Regions from separate parts of the Homo sapiens genome. Here all the other regions are linked to region 1. The links come from fine-mapping of genetic effects on gene expression. A gene starts in region 1. Each other region holds a variant in brackets. All regions are shown on one strand. Distances are from middle to middle. Region 1 holds the start of STAG3 (STAG3 cohesin complex component). Region 2 holds the start of LOC105375426 (a long non-coding RNA gene). Region 3 overlaps GIGYF1 (GRB10 interacting GYF protein 1).

What was found. PIP is the estimated chance that this variant, and not a neighbour inherited with it, causes the effect.
Region 2: its variant is fine-mapped to the expression of STAG3 in prefrontal cortex (GTEx, PIP 0.99).
Region 3: its variant is fine-mapped to the expression of STAG3 in whole blood (GTEx, PIP 0.96).

Annotation. Positions count from the first base shown.
Region 1 is chr7:100,173,893-100,182,063 of GRCh38, reverse strand. STAG3 (STAG3 cohesin complex component) reads right to left here and starts at 4,146. Exons shown (of 34, transcript NM_001282717.2): 1 at 4,059-4,146; 2 at 1,392-1,571. The coding sequence starts at 1,507. GPC2 (glypican 2) reads left to right here and starts at 4,683. Exons shown (of 10, transcript NM_152742.3): 1 at 4,683-5,030; 2 at 5,699-5,857; 3 at 6,170-6,492; 4 at 7,299-7,379; 5 at 8,067-8,171. The coding sequence starts at 4,865. RefSeq lists silencers at 4,372-4,421, 4,602-4,721.
Region 2 is chr7:100,262,291-100,270,461 of GRCh38, reverse strand. It overlaps LOC105375426 (a long non-coding RNA gene), which reads left to right and starts at 2,978. Exons shown (of 2, transcript XR_927809.2): 1 at 2,978-3,846; 2 at 5,332-5,595. It also overlaps the pseudogene CASTOR3P. RefSeq lists enhancers at 1-136, 661-1,183. The variant G/A (reference allele first, on the strand shown) is at 4,919.
Region 3 is chr7:100,684,737-100,692,907 of GRCh38, reverse strand. GIGYF1 (GRB10 interacting GYF protein 1) reads left to right here. Exons shown (of 27, transcript NM_001375765.1): 2 at 3,353-4,316; 3 at 4,393-4,457; 4 at 4,601-4,704; 5 at 4,798-4,927; 6 at 5,025-5,120; 7 at 5,292-5,403; 8 at 5,502-5,610; 9 at 5,862-5,902; 10 at 6,089-6,259; 11 at 6,475-6,728; 12 at 6,829-6,934; 13 at 7,427-7,564; 14 at 7,762-7,859; 15 at 8,014-8,171. The coding sequence starts at 4,670. Among named protein-coding and RNA genes, the nearest start is that of GIGYF1, 5.4 kb to the left of the region's middle. RefSeq lists a silencer at 992-1,161. The variant G/A (reference allele first, on the strand shown) is at 3,862.

The DNA of each region.
Region 1 (8,171 bases):
ATATAACCACCCTATTCCCTCCATATAAAAGGCTAATTAATTATGGTTTCTCTGTCTCTCACCGCACCCCATCTCCATGAGAAAAACATATCCAGATTTTAAGAAAAAATGAGCTTATTGTTAGTAGGAAGTTGGGACAAAGTCTTTTTTTTTTTTTTTTTTGAGACGGAGTTTCACCCTTGTCACCCAGGCTGGAGTGCAATCGCATGATCTCAGCTCACTGCAACCTCCGCCTCCCAGGTTCAAGCGATTCTCCTACCTCAGCCTCCCGAGTAGCTGGGATTACAGGTGTTTCACCGTGTTGGCCAAGGTGGTCTCAAACTCCTGACTTCAGGTGATCCACCCGCCTCGGCCTCCCAAAGTGTTGGGATTATAGGCATGAGCCACCACACCCGGCCGGGACAAAGCCTTAAAGGAAAACTTTCACATGAAAGCAATGGAGATGAAGAATGAGGAAATGAGGCAGGAGAAGGACAACTCTTCCTAGTATTCTCTCCGAAGAAGAGAATCAAATGATACTCACTTAGCAGGTAGCGAGATCACTGCTCTTTGTAGAGAAAGATAATCATGGCTCAGGAAGTCATCTATCATTCATCCATAAATGGGAGAGTAATATGTATCTAGAGTTAAATTTCACCCCCTTGAAACATAAACCACATGTCTTATCAATTCAAGTTTATAACTTTGATATAATCTGGTCCCCCACAGCAGCACTGACAGAAACAGAAATGATTCAGAGAAAGCCAATTAAAACAGCCAGGGGATAAAGCAGATCTGTATGAAATTCGCTTTTTTCCTTCTGGAAAGGTAAAAAACCAAGATATATTATTATAACCTACACAGAATAAACTCATATATGGTAATAAATAAGGATACACAGACCTATTTACAAAATCCCCAAGTAGAAGAAATAGGGGACACTAGCCAAAAAGTATATACAATTTACCAGGCAACAAATAAAGAACTCTTTACTCCCCCATCTGCCAGCTCTCAGCCCCCACCAGGGTTGGTACATGCTGAACATAGAAATGTGTTTAAGAGAGGTTTAGACAAGATGGATGATGGATTAAAAACAGGATGTGCTTGAACCCAGGAGGCGGAGGTTGCAGTAAGCCGAGATCGCGCCACTGCACTCCAGCCTGGGCGACAGGGCGAGACTCCGTCTCAAAAAAAAAAAAAAAAACAGGATGTACTACTATTTTGATGTCTACAACATCTAGGACCGCCAAAAAAAACACCTGGAGCTGGAGGGAGGGTGTCACTGTGCTGAACGAGTATAGCACTTCTGGTGTTTTCACACAGTCCCACGCATATTATCATCAATGTGGGAAAACGAGGGGGAAGGCTGCCAGGGACACAGGAAGTGGCCACACAATGCAACATCTACTTACCCCTCTGAGGTATGGTTTGAGTCCCTGTCATCAAAGGGTAGACTGGCAGAGGAACTAGAAGATGCAGACAAGGCCCTCTTGGTATCTCCCACAGCTCTTTGCAACGGGGAAGACATGCTTGGAGAGGAGGAGCTATGAGGCCAGGAAGATGAGGACCACAGGGTAGGTATGGCGATCCAGCTGGGGAAGAAAGAGAAGAAAGGGCTCCTACCACAGCACTTCTCCATCCCCAGCCCTGACCAGTCCCTTTCTTTCCAAGGGAATGGTTCTAGAACTCTGGGGTCAGGTGAGGGGGACCAAAAACTAAGACAAAGGCTGGGCACCGTGGCTCATGCCTATAATCCCAGCACTTTGGGAGGCCAAGGCAGGAGGATGGCTTGAGCCCAGGAGTTCAAGACCAGCCTGGGCAATACAGCAAGACCCCATTTCTAAAAAAAAAATAATAATAATCATTAGTCAGGTGTGGTAGAGCATGCCTGTATTCAGCTATTCAGGAGGCTGAGGTGGGAGGATTGCTTGAGTCCAGGAGTTCAAGGCTGCAGTGAGCTACGATCGCACCACTGTACTCCATCCAGCTTGGGTGACAGAAGAAGACCCTGTCCCCCCTCAAAAAAATAGTAATGATAAATAAGACAAATGGCTGGGCACAGTGACTCATGCCTGTAATCCCAGCACTTTGGGAGGTCGAGGCAGGCAGATCACCTGAGGTCAGGGGTTCGAGACCAGCCTGACCAACATGGAGAAACCCCATTTCTACTAAAAATACAAAATTATCCGGGTGTGGTGGCATATGCCTGTAATTCCAGCTACTTGGGAGGCTGAGGCAGGAGAATCGCTTGAACCTAGAAGGCGGAGGTTGTGGTGAGCTGAGATCGTGCCACTGCACTCCAGCCTGGGCAACAAGAGTGAAACTCCATCTCAAAATAAATAAATAAATAAGACAAAGAGCTGACCTAAGGCATCAAGGGATTAAGCACAACAACACCCCAGAAACTGGCCAGCAGGTTTGGAGTTGCTCTCCAAAAGCTGAGGAAGTCACACACCAGGGTAGCTTCAGACACATCTCTCTCTAGAGGCTGTGGAAGTGCAAACTGCCTACTGCAAGGAAATTTAACTCATAGGTATTTTCTTTAAAAAAAAAAATTGCACACTGGGTGTGGTAGATCATACTTGTAATCCCAGAACTTTAGGCGGCTGAGGCGGGAGGACTGCTTGAGCCCAGTAGTTCAAGACCAATCTGGGCAACATAGCAAGACCCCATCTCTACAAAAAATAAGCAAAAACTAGCTAGGTGTTGTTGCGCACACCTGTGGTCCCAGCTACTCAGGAGGCTGAGACAGGAGGACTGCTTGAGCCCAGCAGTTTGAGACCAGCCTTGGCAACATGAGACACACCCAAAAAAAAAAAAACAAAACCCAAGCAAGGTACACACCAGGGCAGCTTCAGACACAGCCCTCTCTAGAGGCTTCAGAAGTGTAAACTGCCTGCTGCAAGGGAATTTAACTCATAATTAAAAAAAAAAAAAAAAAGGCAAGGTGCCCAGGGTGGCTCAAACCTGGAATCCCAGCACTTTGAGCAGCTGAAGCAGGAGGACTGCCTAACCCTACGAGTTCAAAATCAGTCTGGGCAATATAGCAAGATCCTGTCTCTACGAAAAAACCAAACCAAAACCAAAAAAACTAGCCAGGTGTGGTGGTGCACCTGTAGTCCCAGCTACTCGGCAGAATGAAGCGGGACGATCGCCTGAGCCCAGGAGGTCGAGGCTGCAGCGAGCTATGACTGCACCACTGCACTCCAGCCTGGGAAACAGAGCGAGACTCTGTCTCAAAAAAAAAAAAAAGTAATGACAAATAAATAAAATAAGGCAAAGAGTGGACCTAAAGCACCAAGGGATTACAGACACCAGAAACTGGGCAGTGGGTTTGGAATTGCTCTCCAAAAGCCGAGGCGTGGTGCACAGTGCTCCCGCCTATAATCCCAGTACTTTGGGAGGGCGAAGCGGGAGCATCGCTTGGGTCCAGGAATTCAAGATCAGCCTGGGCCACATAGCAACGCCCTGTCTCTAAAAAAAAAAAATTAAATGGAAAAAAAAAAAAAAGCCAAGCAAGGCAGACAGCAGGGCAGCTTCAGACGCACCCCTCTCTGGAGGCTTCGGAAGTATAAACCGCCCTCTGCAAGGGAACTTACAGGTTTTTTAAAATGAAATAAAAAAAATAAAGAAAGAAATAAGAAAAAAAATACAAGAAGACCCCAGGCTTTCGTTTCCAGAGGACTAGCACCTGATTCCACCTGGAATGGAACAGGAGGCTCTTAAGGATTTGGGGGTGGAGGCGCCATGAGAATAGGGCTGGAAACGCAAAAGGAGGAAAGGCAGGTGCGCGTTTCCTATTTTTCCAGAAGGTAAAAATATCTACGACTGCCCCTGGGGTAAGCGGCTCCAGGATAAAGAGCCTTCCAAGCGCTTAAGAGAATGGACTCTCAGTCTATGGAGGCCTGGGGAGAGGATTCTCCAGCTCTGTGGCGGAGGCCATTGGGGCACGGCCCGGGAAGGCTCCTAGTGTCAGGGCCGGGAGGGTCGCGAGAGGGCCTATTCTTGGGTCAAGGAGAAACCTGTCAGAGCCTGGAAGAGTGACTTCTGGCCGAGCAGGGTTCAGGGAAGGTCCCCACCTCAGGTCCCTCGGGTGTCTCTGGCCACCCCACCTTCCACACAGGCGCCCGCCGCTGCCCTTCCGGGGGCGAAAGATTCCAGAAAAGCGCGGGAACGTACAAGACACGCTGTGCGCAAGCGCAATCCCAACGGCTCGCCCAGGGCCAGTAGCTATCGCGAGGTTTGGAAGTGTGCGAGCTGATGCGCGCCACGTTTGAGTCACGCCGCTCCACAGCCTCGTGTGGCCTCAAGCTCTCAGGCGTCCTGCCCTCTCACGTGGGCTTGGGCACGCGGGCGGCCCGCTTTAGCCCCGCCCCCACCCAGGTCCCACCCCCGCTACCCTCAATCTCCTACTCCATTGGGCGGGTTTTGGACCAGACTGCTAGTAACCCCTTTAATCTGGCTTCTCAATTGCCATAGGCTAGGTTCCACCCAGGCCCCGCCTTTTGAGCCGGATCGCCACGCCCCCGAGGGAGACCACGCCCCTATTTCACCAACCTCCTGAGTGCCAGCCGGGTCCCGCCCCCCTGCCGAGCTTCCGCGCTACATTGGCTTAATTTCTTCCTTGCCCCCGCCCCTGAAGCCGGCTCCGAGCCATTATTGGCGGGGCCCCGCCTCGGGCCCCGCCCCCTGTCCGGCTCCCCGCTCCCATTGTCTCGGCAGATGCCGCCTGGTCCAGCTATCGTGCTCGGTATTCAGTTTTCCGGAGCAGCGCTCTTTCTCTGGCCCGCGGAGCGGTCCCGCGGCCGAGTACCGGATTCCCGAGTTTGGGAGGCTCTGCTTTCCTCCTTAGGACCCACTTTGCCGTCCTGGGGTGGCTGCAGTTATGTCCGCGCTGCGACCTCTCCTGCTTCTGCTGCTGCCTCTGTGTCCCGGTCCTGGTCCCGGACCCGGGAGCGAGGCAAAGGTCACCCGGAGTTGTGCAGAGACCCGGCAGGTGCTGGGGGCCCGGGGATATAGCTTAAACCTAATCCCTCCCGCCCTGATCTCAGGTGAGGAGAAAGAGGAAGACTAGAGAATTGGGGGTGGGGGGCGGGGGCGGGGCCTCCTCATCTCACAATAACTCTCTTCCTTTTCAGAGTGACCGTTATACTAATCTTTTCATCCCACAGTAATGTCTGTTCTCCTCCTGTAACTTCCTTACCGGGATCACAATAACCCTCCTATGCAAAGAATAGCGCTCTTACTCCATCCCCACCCCAGGAATCCCCTCCTCCTAATTAACACCCCCTATGTGTTTCTTTCTTCACAGCCATGTTCTCCTCGCTGTTTCTATTAGCCCCTTCTATGAGAATACTTTATTGCTCACCAAGTAACCCCACCCTTCCAAGCCCCATTCTTCATCCCCTAGAAGCTGTTCTCCAAGTCCCTCGAGGTCTGGGGTGTGGACATTGGGGAGGGTCACCTGAGGACACTCTGACCACTGACTTGGCCCTCAGGGCAGCTGTTAAATAGATGATCCCGTGGCTAATGGGAGTGAACTTGGGATGGGTCAGGAGACAATAAGGTAGGGGATAGGTTCAGGTAGGGAAGAGGGTGCAGACAATAGAAAAGAGACCAGGCAGGTAGAAGAGAAGGCATAGTCCCCAGAGATAGGCGGGAAATGGAAGGGATTTTAGGATATCACTTCCCACCATTCCTTCACGTCTCCTCTGTCCAGGTGAGCACCTCCGGGTCTGTCCCCAGGAGTACACCTGCTGTTCCAGTGAGACAGAGCAGAGGCTGATCAGGGAGACTGAGGCCACCTTCCGAGGCCTGGTGGAGGACAGCGGCTCCTTTCTGGTTCACACACTGGCTGCCAGGCACAGAAAATTTGATGGTGAGGACCTGGGGTCCCCAAACTCAGCTTCACAGCTCCTCTCGGTGCTTAGGACCCCAGCAAGGCTCCTGTCCCCACTCCTTACTCCATCTGTGAAGACTCCATCCCCTCCCAGCCCGCCCACCCCCCAGACTCTGTCTCCAGGGCCCTGCCCTCCCCCATTCCCTGTCTGCCCCATCTCTGAGAGTTACTCAGTTTCTGATTCACTTGTCTTTTCTCTTCTCTCCCATCTCCTCCTGCCTCTGCCTGTTCACTTTTCTCCCCATTCTTTGGCCTGACCTGCCTTCCACCTGTTCCCTGCATTTGCTGCAGAGTTTTTTCTGGAGATGCTCTCAGTAGCCCAGCACTCTCTGACCCAGCTCTTCTCCCACTCCTACGGCCGCCTGTATGCCCAGCACGCCCTCATATTCAATGGCCTGTTCTCTCGGCTGCGAGACTTCTATGGGGAATCTGGTGAGGGGTTGGATGACACCCTGGCGGATTTCTGGGCACAGCTCCTGGAGAGAGTGTTCCCGCTGCTGCACCCACAGTACAGCTTCCCCCCTGACTACCTGCTCTGCCTCTCACGCTTGGCCTCATCTACCGATGGCTCTCTGCAGCCCTTTGGGGACTCACCCCGCCGCCTCCGCCTGCAGGTGAGGGATCCTGAGGCCTGAGCTTCAACCACTTCTGACCTAGTGACCCCTGAACTGTGCACCACTCACCTCCAAACTGGCGTGCTCCAGTCACCTCTGACCTGGTGATCCCCCATCCTGCATTGAAGCCATTTCTGACCTGGTGATCCCTATCCTGAGCTTTACTCACCACTGCCCGACCCAGTGCCCCTTGGTCTTCTTGAAGCAGATGCCCCCACCCCTGCCACCTCCCATTCTGAGCCCTAGTTTCACACAAACACTCACCTGCCCTTAGCCTCCAGCCACCTTTGTGCCAACCCCTTCCTAATCGTAACACCTTGACTTCCTCTGGTTCAACTAAACAGGAATTGTGCATTCAATACGCAAAAGGCATTTTCTTTTATAGTATCACATTTAGTTGTCATCATAACCCTGTGAGGTAGACAGTCATGCCCTTATTTTACAGATGAGAAAACTGAGGCTCCCAGAGATTAAGCTTTTCAGCCAGTAAGTGGCAGAGCCGTGGCTCACACCCAGGTCTTCTGGCTTCAAGTTCAGTGTTAGTTCCGATACACAATTTCTCTCTCTCTAAGCCCTGTACAACATAATCCCTCCATCTCTTCCCAAGCCTTCCTTTGTTTTTCTTTAAGACTATAATTCCTGTGGGGGCTCTTGAACCTGCCTCTCTGTACCACCCAACACTCGACCCACTCTGAGAGAACCCCACACACCCAACCCTCACTGCTCTTGATGCAGTCTCTTGGCTCCAGTCTTGACTGACCCATAACAACCTTGTGGTTTTTCTCACCTTCTTTGCCTTCTCCCAGATAACCCGGACCCTGGTGGCTGCCCGAGCCTTTGTGCAGGGCCTGGAGACTGGAAGAAATGTGGTCAGCGAAGCGCTTAAGGTTGGAGGGTGCCTGAGTATGGGCAGGGCCCAGGGAGGGAGAGGTGGAAGTGAGAGAGACCCCACAAGGAAGAAACAGCCACCAGCCAGCAGGACAGGCCTTGGGCTCTGTCTGCCTCCAGGCCCTGGTGTCCTAGGATGAATTAGGAAGGAGGGGGCTGGAGTGAAACCTCCAATGGTCCACGATCCATGATCTCTGACCCCCTCCTCCCCTCTGTGGACCCATACCCTCCTCAGTCCCCAAGGGCCTGCTCATCTCCATAGCAGTAGGAGATTGGATACTGCCCCCGCCCAACCCCCCAGGATCCCTCAATGACTCCACTTCCCTGCTGCTGAAGGCCAGATGCCTGGCTTGGCCTCTCTCACTGCCCATCCTCTACCTGACCTCCCAGCCTCACCTTCTGCCTCCTGACCGCCTCCTCCCTCCCCAGCTGTGATGGGCTCACTCTTGTCCTTGAATGTTCCCTCCACCCCTAACTGCCTCTCTATTTCCACCCCTCCCACGAATCAGAGTCAGCAACCTGGAACCTCCCTCCTCAGATCTGTGACAATCTCACCTGCTGCCACGTGGGGTCACCAACCCTAGGTGTAGGGTGGGGTATGTGATTTCTGTCTGTGCCCAGCACCAAGCCAGGCTGAGAGCAGCCACAGCGTTTGTGGAGGACACAGCCCCACTCTCTGCCCCCAGGTGCCGGTGTCTGAAGGCTGCAGCCAGGCTCTGATGCGTCTCATCGGCTGTCCCCTGTGCCGGGGGGTCCCCTCACTTATGCCCTGCCAGGGCTTCTGCCTCAAC
Region 2 (8,171 bases), 88 kb before region 1:
ACAAAAGCCAACAGCTCGGATTCTGAACCGCGCCCCCACCCCTCACACAAAGCCCCCTCTGGCTGTTGACACCTTCAGATCCTGCTTCTGCCTGCCCTCTGCCCCCCACTCCCTAGCCGGGCTGGACGTTCCAAGGCTTGGAGGTAACAGAACAGCCTTGTTTTTCCAAGTCTTGGCCCTCAGCCCTGGGCAGCCCCCTGGCTGATTTCTCGGCCACCATTCAAATGAGGATGATGACTCAGGCTGCGGCTGTGCACAGGGCCTGGGTGCTGGAAGGAGGGGGCATTTGGGGGCTTCTTAGAAAGGCAGCAAAGGGCAGGGTCCCTCAGCCCCTTTCCCTTGGTGGAGAGACTGGCCTTCTTCCAGCCCCCAACTCAGGGTCCCCTTTGGGTACTCATGGATAGGCGTGTCTCTGGGGTCAAGCCCCCCTGCTGGCCTCTGGGAACACAAGAAAACCTGTCCCTCAGTGGGTCCCCCTTCCTCCCTCCTGCAGAAAGCAGCCTGTCCTGTCCCAGGCCCAGGTGACCCAGCTGACTAGTCCAGTTTCAAGATGACTCAGAGGCCAAAGGCCATCTCTGTTTCCATGGTCCGGCCTCAGAAGGTGCGGAACATTCGTCAAATGCCTGAGGACCTGCCACCCCAAGCACTCTGAGCCCGGATCGTGGCTTCAGGTCATGTGTGACCAGAGCCCGCTGCCTGCGTGGCTGAGGCAAAGTCTCTCCTCTGGCTCACACTTTGTCCGTCTGTAAAATAGAGATAGCACTACTTGGCCCCCTCATGGACACAGAACTGCTGTGTGGATGGTGTGGGACGATTGTGGGAAATGGCTTTTTAGCAAGTGTTAATGGGTCGCAGCCTGCGAACATAGCATTTAAACTGTTTTCAATAATCAGCCATCCAGGTAGAACCCCTTAGATTCTTCCTGTAATACCTGCCCCCAGGTGGTGACCCATAGCTCTGTCACCTCCCTCTCCAAAACCTACGTTTAGCCCAGACTAGGACAGCATGCCCTGAGGGTCCCTGTGCCACCTGTTTACTTTTCTTTTTTTTTTTTTTGAGATGGAGTTTTGCTCTTGTCCGGGCTGGAGTGCAGTGGTGCCATCTCAGCTCACTGCAGCCTCCATCTCCCAGGTTCAAGCGATTCTCCTACCTCAGCCTGCCGAGTAGCTGGGATTACAGGCATGCACAACCACGCCTGGCTAATTTTGTGTGGAGACGGGGCTTCTCCATGTTGGTCAGGCTGGTCTTGAACTCCCGACCTCAGGTGATCCACTGGCCTCCACCTCCCAAAGTGCTGGGATTCCAGGCGTGAGCCACCACTCCCGGCCCGGTTACAGTTTTGTCAGTCACTCTATAGCATCAAATCGTTGACATGGCATTCGAGGCCCTTTGGGATCTAGATCCTGAATCCTCATCTTTATTTTTTTGTTTTTTATTTTTCTCTTTTAGAGACAGAGTCTTGCTCTGTCGTACAGGCTGGAGTACAGTGGCGCCATCATAGATCAATACAGCCTCCAACTCCTGGGCTCAAGCAGTCCTCCCACCTCGACCTCCCAAAGTCCTGGGATTACTGCTCCTGGCCTTGAATCCTCATCTTTAGCCCTCCCCCAGCAAATACACAATTTCCCTTATTGTTCCCTACATACCTCTGTGCCTTCGTATCTACCTCTCTTCCATCTGCCTGGAATATTCTCCCCCATCCACCCCTAGTAAATTCCTATTCAATCCTCAAGAGCTAATGATAGCACGCTGAAACCTTCCTGAACCTTTCCCTCCGCCCCTTAGCAGACTTAAGTCACTTCTCTCTCGTGCAGTGGAGTTGTGGAAAGGGAATGGCATTAGGAAACATTCACTCTGTGTGGGGGTGTGGCTGGGTCCAAGGGATGCAGAGATACCTTGCCCCTTCCTCTGCCAAGCCCTAGAGCCTGGTGGAAGAGAAAGAAAGAGGCCATCACTCTACAGCAGGGTGGAGTCAGGGAAGGGCTGGTCTAGCAGGGTACCTAGAAGGCTGGGTGCCTACCTGTAGGAGGTGGCACTAGATCTTAGAGCTTTTTGTTTGTTTGTTTTTAAGAGATGGGGTCTCCGTTGCCCAGGCTGAAGTACAGTGGCACCATCATACCTCACTGCAGCCTCGAACTTCTAGGCTCAAGCAATCCTCTCACCTCGGCCTCCCAAGCACCTGGGACTGCGGGTGCGCACCACCACACTCAGCTAATTTTTAAATTTCTTGTAGCGATGGGGGTCTCACTGTGTTGCCCGGGCTGGCCTTGAACTCCTGGCCTCACATGATCCTCCCACCTCAGCCTCTCAGAGGTGCGTGTGGACATAACATTTAAACTGTTACAGGCATGAGCTGTTGGTCAGGCTGGTCTCGAACTCCTGAACTTGTGATCCGCCCATCTGGGCCTCCCAAAGTGCTGGGAGGCGTGAGCCACCATGCCTGGCCAGTGAACACTAACGTCTTAAGAGGCATTTATGAGAGAAAAGCTTAAAATTGCAAAAAGTCCATGCAGAGCCCTCGTCATTCCTCGGAGCACATTGGGCTGAGGCCACTGTCTGATTGCCCTTTAGGGAAAGACAGGCTAGCCCAAGGGAGTTAGAGCCCTGGGACACCTCGGCTGGAATCCCAGCACTGCTCATCCTGGCTGTGTGACCTTGGGCAAGTTGCTTGACTTCTCTGTGCTATGTTTCTTACCTGTAAAACAGGGATGATGATCATGCCTGCAACCTAAGTGGTTGTGAGGGCTTGATGAGATAAACCACGCCAAGCACTCTCAAGAGTATCTGGTCTACTAGAAGCTCCAATAAGCATTTTTTTTTTTTTTTTGAGACAGAGTCTTGCTCTGTTGCCCAGGCTGGAGTGCAGTGGCATGATCTCAGCTCACTGTAACCTCTGTCTCCCAGGTTCAAGCGATTCTCCTGCCTCAGTTTCCCAAGTAGCTGGGATTACAGCTCTCTACCACCATGCCTGGCTAATTTTTGTGTTTTTAGTAAAGACACCTGGAACTCCCAAAGTGCTGGATTACAAGTGTGAGCCACTGTACCCAGCCATTAAGCATTAACTGGGAAGGCCCTGGGGCCACTGGCCAGCACCAGTTTGTGAGGGCAGAGCCAGAAAAGCCCAGGCTTAGAAGACTTTTTACACACACACATAACGCATCCTGATTCTGGAAAGTGGAGATGCTGTCACTGCTCTCACAGAACTAAGCCAAGGACCTCACCTGTCATTTAGGTGTCAGGCCTCTGGCAGGGGCAGCCAAAATGCTCTAGGACCACAGAGCTGCAAGCCAGTAAGGCTTCCTAGAGGAGGCGGCATCATCTGATCCAAGAATGGGGTGATGGGTGGCATGAGAAAATGTCAGGAGGTGCTGGGGATAAAGCAAGATGAGCAAGCAGAGAACAGGAGTGGGTGGGTACAGATGGATCAGGGGAGGGGTATGGGTGAAGAGTGTACAGGGTGAGCCCCAGAGCCGTGCGTGTGCCCACTCAGGACAGCCATAGTCTGCTGCTGCCTAGAGAAAGGGGCTGGCTCAACCCTAGCTCCCAAATCTTTTTCCTATGACTTTTTCCTTTGTCCTTATCTCTTTCCTGAACTATCCAGATATCTTCCTGCCTCCTGCCTCTAGGGCAGCCCAAATGCTCATTGCTGCCCCATCCCTCTGGGCTGAAGGAGCAAACGCCTGGAGGCTGGAAAGAGAAAGGTGTCTGCAGGGAACAAGCCGCTGTCCTGTGGTGGGTGCAAATTGGTATGCTCTGTTCACGCAGAAACCCAGCAGTGTGTACCTGCTGTAGGCAAGGCCTAATAGGAAGCGCGAAAGGAGTTTCTGTCCCATGGGAGGAAAAGACGTGAGTCCTGTGTGTTCTCCAGCAAAGGTAGAGGGTGAGAGGACCAGAGGCCCGCACAGGGGGCATGGCTGGGAGTGCAGGGGCAGGGGGGGAGTCCGGGAGGATGGAGGGACACAACTGGAGTGGGTGCTGGGTCGACTTCATGCATTCCTTCAGAATCCCTGGCCACATCTCTGCCTTGTTGGTTTTGTTTGTTTTTTCAGACAGGGTCTCACTCTGTCACCCAAGCAGGAATGCAATGGCGTGATCTCAGCTCACTGCATGCAATCTCTGCTTCCTGGGTTCAAGTGACTCTTGTGCCTCAGCCTCCCGAGTAGCTGGGATTGCAGGCATGCACCACCATGCCTGGCTAATTTTTTGTATTTTAATAGAGACGGGGTTTTGCCTTGTTGGCCAGGGTGGTCTCAAACTCCTGACCTCAGGTGATCCACCCACCTTGGCCTTCCAAAGTGCTGGGATTACAAGCGTGAGCCACCACTCCCGGCCTGAATTCTTTCTTGATCAGATGTCTTCTGTCTATCCACTCTGGCTCTGTCTACTCCCTTCCCAACACATGCTCTATTTTAGGTAACCATGGTAGTTTTGTTTTGTTTTGCTTTTGCTTTTGTTTTTGGAGATGGAGTTACACTCTGTCTCCCAGGCTGGAGTACAGTGGCACGATCTCGGCTCACTGCAACCTCTGCCTCCTGGGTTGAAGTGATGCTCCTGCCTCAGCCTCCTGAGTAGCTGAGGTTACAGGTACCACCACCATGCCTAGCTAATTTTTTGTATTTTTAATTCAGATGGGTTTTACCAAGTTGGCCAGGCTGGTCTTGAACTCCTGACCTCAAGTGATCTGCCCGCCTTGGCCTCCCAACGTGCTGGGATTACAGGCATGAGCCACTGCACCTGGCCAACTGTGGTAGTTTTTAGATTTTTTTGTACAGAGGGGGTCTCACTCTGTTGTCCACGCCGGTCTCAAACTCCTGACCTTAAGTGATCCTCCCTTCTTGGTTTCCCAAAGTGCTGGGATTACAGGCATGAGCCACTGCTCCCAGCTGCTGGTGGTTTTAAAAGCTAGGATCGGCTGGGC[G/A]CCGTGGCTCACGCCTGTAATCCCAGCACTTTGGGAGACCGAGGAGGGCAGATCACAAGGTCAGGAGATCGAGACCATCCTGGCTAACACGGTGAAACCCCGTCTCTACTAAAAATAGAAAAATTAGCTGGGCGTGGTGGCGGGCGCCTGTATTCCCAGCTACTCAGGAGGCTGAGGCAGGAGAATGGCGTGAAGCCGAGATCCCGCCACTGCATTCCAGCCTGGGCAACAGAGCCAGACTCCGTGTCAAAAAAAAAAAAAAAAAGCTAGGATCCCTCCACCCCCCTCTCCTTTAAATGTCTGTCTTGGCTACTTTCTTCTAAGTCACTAGGAGATGGTAAAAGCAATACCGCAAGACTTCCGAGGCTAGGGCACAAAACGATAGCTTCTGCGTGGCGCTCCCTCTCTCCCAGATCCCTTGCTCTGTGGGAAACCAACCCCCAAGGCCTGAGGACACCCAAGCAGCCCCATGGAGAGGCCCATATGGAGAGGAACTGAGGCATCCCACCCTCAACCGGCAGAGCGGGGCTTTGAAAACAGATCCTTTCGCCCCAGGCAAGCCTTCCAATGGATTGCAGCCCCAGCCAATGCCTTGAACTGCCAAGTTCAGCCACACCTAAATTCCTAACCCATAGGAACTGTGAGAGATAATAAAAGTTTGTTGTTGTTTCAAGCCACTAAGATTTGGGGTAATTTGTTATGTAGCAACAGATAAGGAATGAAATGACCCTGCCATTTATCATTGAGACGGGAACAAACATTTTTTAGAATAGCAGGAAGTACTTAAAATAATTACTAGGTTGGCCAAGTGCAGTGGCTCATGCCTGTAATCCCAGTATGCCTGTAATCCCAGCAAGCCTGTAATCCCAGCACTTTAGGCTGATCGCTTGAGCTCAGGAATTGGAGACCAGCGGAGGCAACATGGTGGGACCCCGACTCTGCAAAAAATACAAAAAAATTAGCTAGGTATGATGGCGCCTGCCTGTGATCCCAACTACTTAGGAGGCTGAGGTGGGAGGATTCCTTGAGCCTAGGAGGTAGAGGTTGCAGTGAGCCGAGATTGCACCACTGTACTCCAGCCTGGACAACATAATGAGACTCTGTCTCATCATCATCATCATCATCATCATCATCATCTTAACAATAATAACAACAACCTGCAGACAATAGGGCAAACCTGACTATGTGATCATGCTACCTTTAGTCCAGCCAGAGAACTCTCATGAGTCCTTAAACCTAACACAGACACTTCTTGAGGTCGGCTTCAGCATCCTCTCCTCCAGGAAGCCACCCTGGTGCCTGGTGAGTGGCTTCCTGGGATCACCCATGCCTCAGGGTGCAGGATGAGAGGGCTGGTCCTGATCCCCTTCTGTCCTCACCCCCAGGTCCATGTCCAGGGCTTAGGACCGGTCGTCCCTCGGTGTTGACTTATCTCCCAGGGATCAAAAAAGTCAGTTGTAGCTGGGCGCAGTGGCTCACGCCTGTAATCCTGGCACCTGTGGGAGGGCCAAGCAGGTGCATCACCTGAGGTCAGTAGTTCGAGACCAGCCTGGCTAACAAGGTGAAGCCCCGATTCTACCAAAAATACAAAAATTAGCCGACGTGGTGGCGGGCGCCTGTAATCCCAGCTACTCAGGAGGCTGAGGCAGGAGAATCACTTGAACCCAGAAGGCAGAGGTTGCAGTGAGCCAAAATCATGTCACTACACTCCAGCCTGGGCGACAAGAGTGAAACTCCATCTCAGAAAAAACAAAAACAAAAACAAAAAAACCTTGTAAAAGGTTTAATTGGTCTCTTCTGAGCCTGCACACAGCTGGAAAGGTTTTCTCTTATAACAGATCTGCAGTATGAGAAACCAGCCCAGTTGCATCCGCGCTGGGCCAGTGGGATTCTGGGTGTCCAAGGTCCCTGTGGGCCATCCACGGTGCTAAATTAAAACTTTTTGAAAAACATTCTTTTTTTTTTTTTTTTTGAGACAGAGTCTGGCTCTGTCCCCCAGGCTGGAGTGGAGTGGTGCGATCTTGGCTCACCACAAGCTCTGCCTCCCGGGTTCACACCATTCTCCTGCCTCAGCCTCCCGAGTAGCTGGGACTACAGGCACCTGCCACCACGCCCGGCTAATTTTTTTGTATTTTTAGTAGAGACGGAGTTTCACCATGTGAGCCAGGATGGTCTTGCTCTCCTGACCTCGTGACCCGCCCGCCTCGGCCTCCCCAAAGTGCTGGAATTACAGGCATGAGCCACCGCACCTGGCCTGAAAAAAATTCTTGAGACAGGGTCTCACTGTGTCACCCTAGTTGGAGTGCAGTGATGCAATCCCAGCTCACTCCAGCCTCGATTTCTCAGGCTCCAGCAATCCTCCTGCCTCAGCCCCACTGAGTAGCTGGGACTGCAAGCACTCACCACTACACCCAGATAATTTTTGTTTTTTTTGTAGAGATGGGGTCTTGCTATGTTGCCCAGGCTGGTCTCGAACTCCCGGACCCAAGTGATCCTCCTGCCTCAGCCTTCCAAAGTGCTGGGATTACAGGTGTGAGCTACGGTGCCTGGCCTAAATGGAAAACTGGTGTCTAGGTGCCATATATACTCAGGCTTGCCCTCACCATAACACATTGAACATACTCCAACCTCTGAGCTAGATCTCTGCTCGAAAACCTGAGGTTTTGCTTGCACACCCCAATTTTTTTTTTTTTTTTTTTTTTTGAGACAGGGTCTTGCTGTCACCCAGGCTGGAGTGCAATGGTGCGATCTTGGCTCATTGCAACTTCCATCTCCTGGGTTCAAGCGATTCTGGTCCCTCAGCCTCCCGAGTAGCTGGGATTACAGGTGCACGCCACCACACCTGGCTAATTTTTGCATTTTTAGTAGAGATGGGGTTTCATCATGTTGCCCAGGCTGGTCTTGAACTCCTGACCTCAAGTGATCCACCAGCCTCGGCCTCCCAGAGTGCTGGGATAACAGGTATGAGCCACCGCGCCTGGCCATGCACCCACATTTACAGCAACCTTATTCACTAAGGCCTAAAGGTGGAAGTGACCCAGGTGTCTACTGATGGATGAACAGATCAACAAAATGGGATGTATTCACACAGAGGAATATTATTCAGAGGGGAAAAAGGAAGGAAATTCTGACACATGCTACAACATGAATGAACCTTGAAGACATCATGCTGAGTGAAATAAACTAGTCACAAAAGAACAAATACTGCATGAGATCCCACTTGTATGAAATACCTGGTGTAGCCGGAGTCATA
Region 3 (8,171 bases), 510 kb before region 1:
TCCTGTGCCCTTTGCAGACCTAGGCTAGCCACCCTCCACCAGGCTAGCCAGCTCCAATCTGATTTTCTTAGATTGTAGGTCTTGGTCCCCCAGCGGTCTGTCGTGCCATTGGGAAGGATTTGAGGGTAGACCTGGCCTTGGTGTCCCTGCCATTGCCTGGGGACCAGGGGCCCTGAGGGTCCCACGTGGTGGTTAGTCAAGTGGACCATGTGCTTAAACTTCTGGACTAGCTTTTTCTGCTGTTGGACACATCAGTCTTGTGTTCGTGATCTGATGCGTTAGCCCTAACTTTTACATCTGCTATTGGAATTTGGGAATTAAAGAAAAATAGCCCACTTTAGAGGAGAGAAGATGAGAGGAGGAGGCTAGATGAAGGATGTTGAAAGTCTAACAAATGTAAAATGGCTTCAAACTCACAGAATAATGCTTGCGAGTTTGGGATGGTTACTGCTACCGTGCGCACCTCCAGTCTTGCATAGTGTCAAGGATGTCGGGGCACGCTGTCGGAGCAGCTTCCTCCTTCTTTTCCCTGGCTGGAGCCCAAGGCTGGGCAAGTGGGCAAAAGGGATCACAGGAGGTAAAGAGTGAAAATCCTTTGAAAACTGTTAACTTGTAGACAATTGCCAAGCGGTGGTGTGATTTGCTGGGATGGCTCAGAGAGGAGAGAGCTGGGATAACCGACCAGCCGCGAAGAATGCGGGTTTGCATCTCTTTTTTAAGCCTCAGCGTCCTCACCCTACCACGCTTGGAGAATCTCCATCCTGAGAAAGGGCCAGGTCCCCTCCAGCAGGCCTGGGGCTGGGCGGTTGTTCCAGTGTTGAGGAATTGGGGACTGTGCTTCTGTTTAAGTGGCTCTGTTCTGTGCCAAGGCACAGTGCTCTGTGTTGGAGCTAATTTTAGGGGTGATGGAGTGAGGAGATAATGTTCTTAGCTGAATGTGCACTGGGACCGCCTGTTCTCTGTCTTTTCTTTCTCTCTTGAGTTCTGAGCCCCAGAGAGCAGGCTCCCTTTCCCGCGCGCCCTGGCGCCTACTGGAGCACCCGGGCCCAGCGTGTCCTCGCCCCTTGTCTCCGGCAGGGGGCAGTCTTTCAAAAGCATTGATTCAGATGCTGGGGGAGTGAGGGTAGACAGGCCCGAGAAAGAGAAGGGGTGGGGAAGGGGCGAGGAGCCGAAGTAGGCCGAGGCTTGAGGGCAGGGCCAGGGCGGGGGACAGGCTGGAAGGGGCCTGTGAGAAGGAGACCCTGAGCTGAGAAAGCTCAGCCGGGTAAGCTGAGACGGGCAGGTGGCAGTACCCCAGCCCCCGCCACCTCCTGCTCTTACCTTCATTGGACAGGGATCAGATACCTGGCCCTGAGAGCTTGCAATAGACAAACTTAGGCAGTTTTTCTTAAAAAAAAAAAATCTATTCTTTTCTCAAAGATTTTCTCCTGGCAGGATTTCAGATTTCCCTCGTGGGACAGTGTAATTAGGGAATGATGTCCCTGCTGTTCAGAGAGGAGAATGACCCAGCGTGCACACACCTGCCTTCCCTTGCCTTCCCCTTGGCCCAGTAGACCCCCAAGGGCTGTGCCCATGCTCGTGGCGCAGAGGAGGGTGTCTCAGCACTGGCGCACTTGGTATCTGGAGTCACATAGCTCTTGGCTGTGGGGCTGCCCTGTGCACCCCCTGCCCAGTGGTGACAACCCAGAATGTCTCTAGACTTGGCCAAGAGCCCCCTGAGGAGCAGAGGTGCCCCCAGTCCAGAACCTGTTGGAGGGTGGGAGCCCCATGGTGGCCTGCAGGTGTGCCACTAGTTCCTTTAGTCCAAGGAAGGGGCCAGGCACCATCAGCTTCCGGCACCAGACCCTGCTGTGGGGGTGCCTAGAGAGTTAACCTCACTCTCCTGGTTTCTTCCCAAGAAGGCGGGTGGCATGGGCTTTTTCCTGCTCTGGGCCTGCTCTCTCCCCTGTCTTGGTGTCGCTGTCCTCAGTCTGCATGAACCATTCCCCCTTTGTGTGCCCCTTGCAGCCAAGACACAGCCAGGATGGGTGACTTGAGCCGGAGGCACCTAGGAGAGCTGCCCTTGCTGCGCCTGGCAGGGGGCAGTGTGAGGCCATCGCTTTAAATTTTTTTTTTTTTTTTTTTTTGAGACAGAGTCTTGCTCTGTTGCCCAGGCTGGAGTGCAGGGGCGCAATCTCAGCTCACTGCAACCTCCGCCTCCTGGGTTCAAGCGATTCTCCTGCCTCAGCCTCCCGAGTAGCTGGGATTAGAGGCACCTACCACCAGGACTGGCTAATTTTTGTATTTTTAGTAGAGACAGGGTTTTGCCACGTTGGCCAGGCTGGTCTCAAACTCCTGACCTCAGGTGATCTGGCTGCCTTGGCCTCCCAAAGTGCTGGGATTACAGGCATGAACCACCACGCCTGGCCACTTTTTCTTTTTTAAAAAATGTTTAGAATTGTTTCTGTAGAGTCGTGGTCTTGTTCTGTTACTCAGGCTGGTCTCGGACTCCTCTCTTCAAGCCTCCCACAGTGCTGGGATTATAGGCATAAGCCATTGTGCTGGCCAGGTGGTCCCTTTTCTGTTCTACTCTCTCCCACCCTCATGCCTCCAGGATGAGCTTCTGGCCTTCTAGAAGGAATGAACTGGAGGAGGCCCAAAATGGCCTCTCCTGAGGCTGATTTGAAGGAATGTGGGGTGTTTTTCTTGGAGTGGGGAAAACTTAGGTATGCGGTGGTTATCTCCAGATACCTTTTGTTCCCTAAAGCTTTTTTAAAAAAATGATTATTGTGGTAAAATATACAACAAAATTTGGAGACTTTAACTGTCTCTAATTGTGCCATTCTGTGTTACTAAGTACACTCACATTGGTGTGCGGCCATGACCACCAGCGGCCCCAGGATCCCCTCCTCAGTTGAGGCTCTGGACCCTTCAGCAACAGCTCCCTGTCCCCTCAGCCCCTGGTGGCTGCCCTTCTACCTTCCTCCCTCAATGAGTGACTGCTCTAGAGACCTCATGAAAGAGAAGTAAGGGGTAGCTCTCCTTTTTTGGCTGGTGTGTTTCTCTTAGCGTGATGTCCTCAAGGCTCATCCAGTCCCCAGATTGCTCTAGGTGGCCACCTGCAGTCAGTGACAGGCTGGTGGCTTTTCATGTCATGGAACACACCACCACTGGAGCATCCAGCCGAGGCAGAGGAAGGAGAGGTCCCAGGGGAGGCCAGCCTGGCCTTGGGTTGCCTCTGAGCCCGGTGTTTCCCCCTGGAGTGCCTGGACTCTGAGCAGGCCTCGGCTTGTCATGGGCTGCTGGCTCAGCTGGGGCTGATGGCCTTTCCTCCTCAGCACCCTGGTTGAACCCGCTTCCTCTTCTTTCCCAGACTGTGGCGTCCTGGAGTTGATGGGAGCTGCAGCACCAAGCCGGGCCAGCCTCCCTCCCAGCCAGTGACAACACCGCAGCACCTGGACCCCGCCCACCCGCTTGAGTCCTCTGCCTGGGGCCCCAGGGATGCGCCTCCTCCTGAAAGTCCCCTCCATCCTCCCTTAGAGGAACAGGCTGCCGCCGCGCCCCCATCAGCCTCCATTGCCCTGACCTTATTTCCACCTGATGGTGCCAGAGGCTGCTTCCCAGCTGGTATCCTGAGATCCTCGTTCCCTTGGTGGCTTGGTTGTTTAAGCCTCCATTATTGATTGGGGGCGGTGGTCTGGGTGTGATTCCTGTGGGGGAAACCAGCCCGAGGTGCCTTGGCTCAGGCTTGCCTGCCTGGAGTCCTTGTCGTGTACCCGTCTGTGGCCCTAGAGTCACCTCCTGCTCCTTTTCACTGGGTTTCTCCCCAGACCAAGCCCCTGGATTTGAGCTTCTGAGCAGCCAACTGATTTTTTTCATGAG[G/A]GAAAGAATTTTGCTCCTAGATTTATTTCTAATCCTTTTCTCCGTAACTGACCTTTTCTCTGTAAGCTATTTGTGGCTCTAGTGGGTTTTTGTTTGCTTGCTTGTTTTTGTTTTATCTTTGCCCTGAACGTCCATCCTGGCCTCGGCTGCCTCCCTCCCCGAGTTCTTCACTACACCTCCTGTCTCAGCCTCCCAGAGAGGGTGGCGAGGGTGCTGATGCCCAGAGACACCATCCGGCGAATGGACCTCTCCTGTCATGCGGGGCAGGGCAGGGCTGCCGGCAGAGCCATGTCCTGAACCCTCCCTCCTCCCCCCTGCTCTCCTTAAGGGTCTTTCCCAGATGTGAAGGTCCCTCCCAGGCTCTACTGAGGTCAGACCAATTCCCAGTGGCTTGGGTACCCTCGTTCACTCCAGCACCAGCCCCTGCCCTCCTTCTTCCCGGGCCAGGCTGCCAGGTGAGCCCCGGGCCAAGGGTGGTTGCCCTGCTGAGGCCGAAAGGACTCGAGCTTCCCATCTCCTCGCCTCCCCCAGGTCTTTCACCGTCTGGACTCATCTCTGGGTAACTCATGGTGTGAGTGGCCACGTGGCTGGCTCAGGTGAGTCCTTTTAGACCCCAGGTGACCCACCAGCTAGTCCGGGGCCCATTGTTGTGCCCACTAGGATGTCCCCCATGGTGTCCTCCCTGCGCTTTAAAGTTCTCCTTCGTGTGCTGTTCTTCATGGCCCCTGTTCCCCCACAGGTGTTTGGACAGTGAACGCCAGGTCCCCTCCTCCCCACCCCCGGCCTCTCAAACACGCCCAGCCCCACGATGGCAGCAGAGACACTCAACTTTGGGCCTGAGTGGTGAGTCACTTGTGCCTCGGCTGCCGTGGAGATTCGAGAAAGCACAGTCAGGCTGCCCTGACCTCTGTCTTCTTCTCTCTGTGTTGTGTCCAGGCTCAGGGCCCTGTCCGGGGGCGGCAGCGTGGCCTCCCCACCCCCGTCCCCTGCCATGCCCAAATACAAGCTGGCTGACTACCGTTATGGGCGAGAGGAAATGCTGGCTCTCTACGTCAAGGAGAACAAGGTGGGTGCGTGGGCGAGGGGGGTTGGCGGTGGTGGCCTCTGCCTGTGGAGGGGATCTGGCAGCATGTGGTGTCTTGGCTGTCCCAACCCACTGCCAGGTCCCGGAAGAGCTGCAGGACAAGGAGTTCGCCGCGGTGCTGCAGGACGAGCCACTGCAGCCCCTGGCTCTGGAGCCGCTGACTGAGGAGGAACAGGTGGGACCGGGCCAGGAGCTGAGGCTGCGGGAGCCTGGGAGGGGAGGCCATGGGTTGGGTTAGGAGGAGAGGGGCCAGCGCTGAGGAGACAGGCGGGGAGGGTGCTGTGGGGTGGGGGTGGAGGTGGTTGGGTGCCTGGGTCCTCACTCCCGCCCCTGGCTCCCTCCTCAGAGAAACTTCTCCCTGTCAGTGAACAGCGTGGCTGTGCTGAGGCTGATGGGGAAAGGGGCTGGCCCCCCCCTGGCTGGCACCTCCCGAGGCAGGGGCAGCACGCGGAGCCGAGGTAGAGGGGTGATGGCGTGTCCTGGGGACGGGCAGATCTGGGCCCCTGACTTCGAGAACGTGCAGCAGGTTTCATTGTGCGTCTGGCCTCTTCTCTAGGCCGCGGCCGTGGTGACAGCTGCTTTTACCAAAGAAGCATCGAAGAAGGCGATGGGGCCTTTGGACGAAGCCCCCGGGAAATCCAGCGCAGCCAGAGCTGGGATGACAGGTGGGGCGGGGAGGGGGCATGGCGCAGAGCCGGGCAGGCCAGGGAGGGGAGGCCTGGGCCCTGTCGCTAGAGGGTAACAGAGGCCCACCAGATAAGCCCTGTCCGAGATCCCGGTGCTCCTGACCCCTGGTTTCGTTTGTCCCCTTCCTCCCTCCACTGCCTCAGGGCACAGTGGACAAGGCATGGGGCGGTTGCACAGGGTGGCAGGGGAGGCTGTACTGTTTCTGACCCACACGTTTCCCCTGCTGCAGAGGCGAGAGGCGGTTTGAGAAGTCAGCAAGGCGGGATGGAGGTACGAGGCTGCTGAGGGCGGCGGCCGGGGCGGCAGGGAGGACCAAGATGGGTGGCCCAGTCTGGGGGTGCTTATTTCGGAGGTGTTGGGGGCAGGAGGGCCTGGAGCTGGCCCCCCCAACGTTTCTTGAGGGTCCAGGCACCACGCTGCCTTTCTAATAACTGCCCCTGTCTTCCCGTCTCCCAGCACGATGTGGCTTTGAGGAGGGAGGGGCTGGCCCAAGGAAGGAGCACGCCCGCTCAGACAGCGAGAACTGGCGCTCCCTACGGGAGGAACAGGAGGAGGAGGAGGAGGGCAGCTGGAGGCTCGGAGCAGGGCCCCGGCGAGACGGCGACCGCTGGCGCTCCGCCAGCCCTGGTGAGATTGGGGCCTGGTAGCATTGGCGGGGGCAGTGGGGAGCAGGAACTGTAATGAGAGGGTGGGCTCCTGTAGCCACGGGGAGGGAGCAGAGGCTGGCTGGTGTGGGAGTGGCCGGGACAGCAGCCCTGGAGGTGCTCCGTGAGCTGCAGCAGAGGGGGCCGCTGGCTTCGCTTGGGTACCCACTCTTCTTCTCCCTGACTTTTCCTGTGCAGATGGTGGTCCCCGCTCTGCTGGCTGGCGGGAACATGGGGAACGGCGGCGCAAGTTTGAATTTGATTTGCGAGGGGATCGAGGAGGGTGTGGTGAAGAGGAGGGGCGGGGAGGGGGAGGCAGCTCTCACCTGCGGCGGTGCCGAGCGCCTGAAGGCTTTGAGGAGGACAAGGATGGGCTCCCAGAGTGGTGCCTGGACGATGAGGATGAAGAAATGGGCACCTTTGATGCCTCTGGGGCCTTCTTGCCTCTCAAGGTATCTGTGAGGAGGCGAGGGTGGGAACCTGCCCTTCCGGGGTCCTCTTCCTCCCCACCCACCCCAGCTGTTCTCTGCTCCCCACCCCGGCCCCATGCAGAAGGGCCCCAAGGAGCCCATTCCTGAGGAGCAGGAGCTGGACTTCCAAGGGTTGGAGGAGGAGGAGGAACCTTCCGAAGGGCTAGAGGAGGAAGGGCCTGAGGCAGGTGAGCCGCGGGGTGCCCAGCGGGCCTGGGGCTGGGCCGGGCAGGCACTGGTGTTCTTTGCCGGGCTGGGCATTGGCTGCCCACCTACCTGTAGAATCAGGCTACTTAGATCTGGAAGAAGAGTGCTGAGAGGTGGGGAGGAACCAGGGGGTAGCAGAGCCATGTCTTCAAGGCAGTGTACCAGATAGAAATCAGGCGTAATCAAAATGACCTTTGAAAGTCCCTTGAAGAAGCTGTAGAACCTGGAGTGACGTCTGCGGTGTTGTGTGGTGTTGTGCGATGTTGTGATATGTTCCTGCCGCGTCTGGCAGCGTGGAGGCGAGGGTCAGGGCACCGCATTCCCTCTGCCATTAGTTGAGTTGACCCAAGTGAAGTGGTGGACTCGGCCTAAGGGAGTGTGACCCGCGGTTCCAGCCACACTCAAGGGCTTGTGCTAACTCGCGTGGCAGGCCCAGCCCTTGGTTCTGAACTCTGGCCATCTCCCTCTTCTAGGTGGGAAAGAGCTGACCCCACTGCCTCCTCAGGAGGAGAAGTCCAGCTCCCCATCCCCACTGCCCACCCTGGGCCCACTCTGGGGGACAAACGGGGATGGGGACGAAACTGCAGAGAAAGAGCCCCCAGCGGCCGAAGGTAGGAAGGGAGGATGGCCTACCTCCCGGGTGCGCTGGGGCTGTGGGAGAAAGTGCTCCCCACTCGTGGGGGTGGGCACACAGGGCATTCACATTGAGGAGCCATGGCAAGAGCGTGGTGTTCTGGAGTGAGAGTAGGCGAAAGCTATCTTGTCTCCTCCCCGCCCTTCTTTCCACCTCCTATCTCATGCCTTCCAGATGATATTCGGGGGATCCAGCTGAGTCCCGGGGTGGGCTCCTCTGCTGGCCCACCCGGAGATCTGGAGGATGATGAAGGCTTGAAGCACCTGCAGCAGGTGTGGGGGCCTGAGAAAGCGGGAGGGACCCTTCCCACTTCTGACCTGACCTGCTTGGCCCCAGCCCCGGCCCCAGCTCAAGCTCCATCCCCATCCCCATCCTGATGTTGCTGAGATTGGCAGCTGAGCCTTTCTTCTTTTTCTGGGCATCCAGGAGGCGGAGAAGCTGGTGGCCTCCCTGCAGGACAGCTCCTTGGAGGAGGAGCAGTTCACGGCTGCCATGCAGACCCAGGGCCTGCGCCACTCTGCAGCCGCCACTGCCCTCCCGCTCAGCCATGGGGCTGCCCGGAAGTGGTTCTACAAGGACCCACA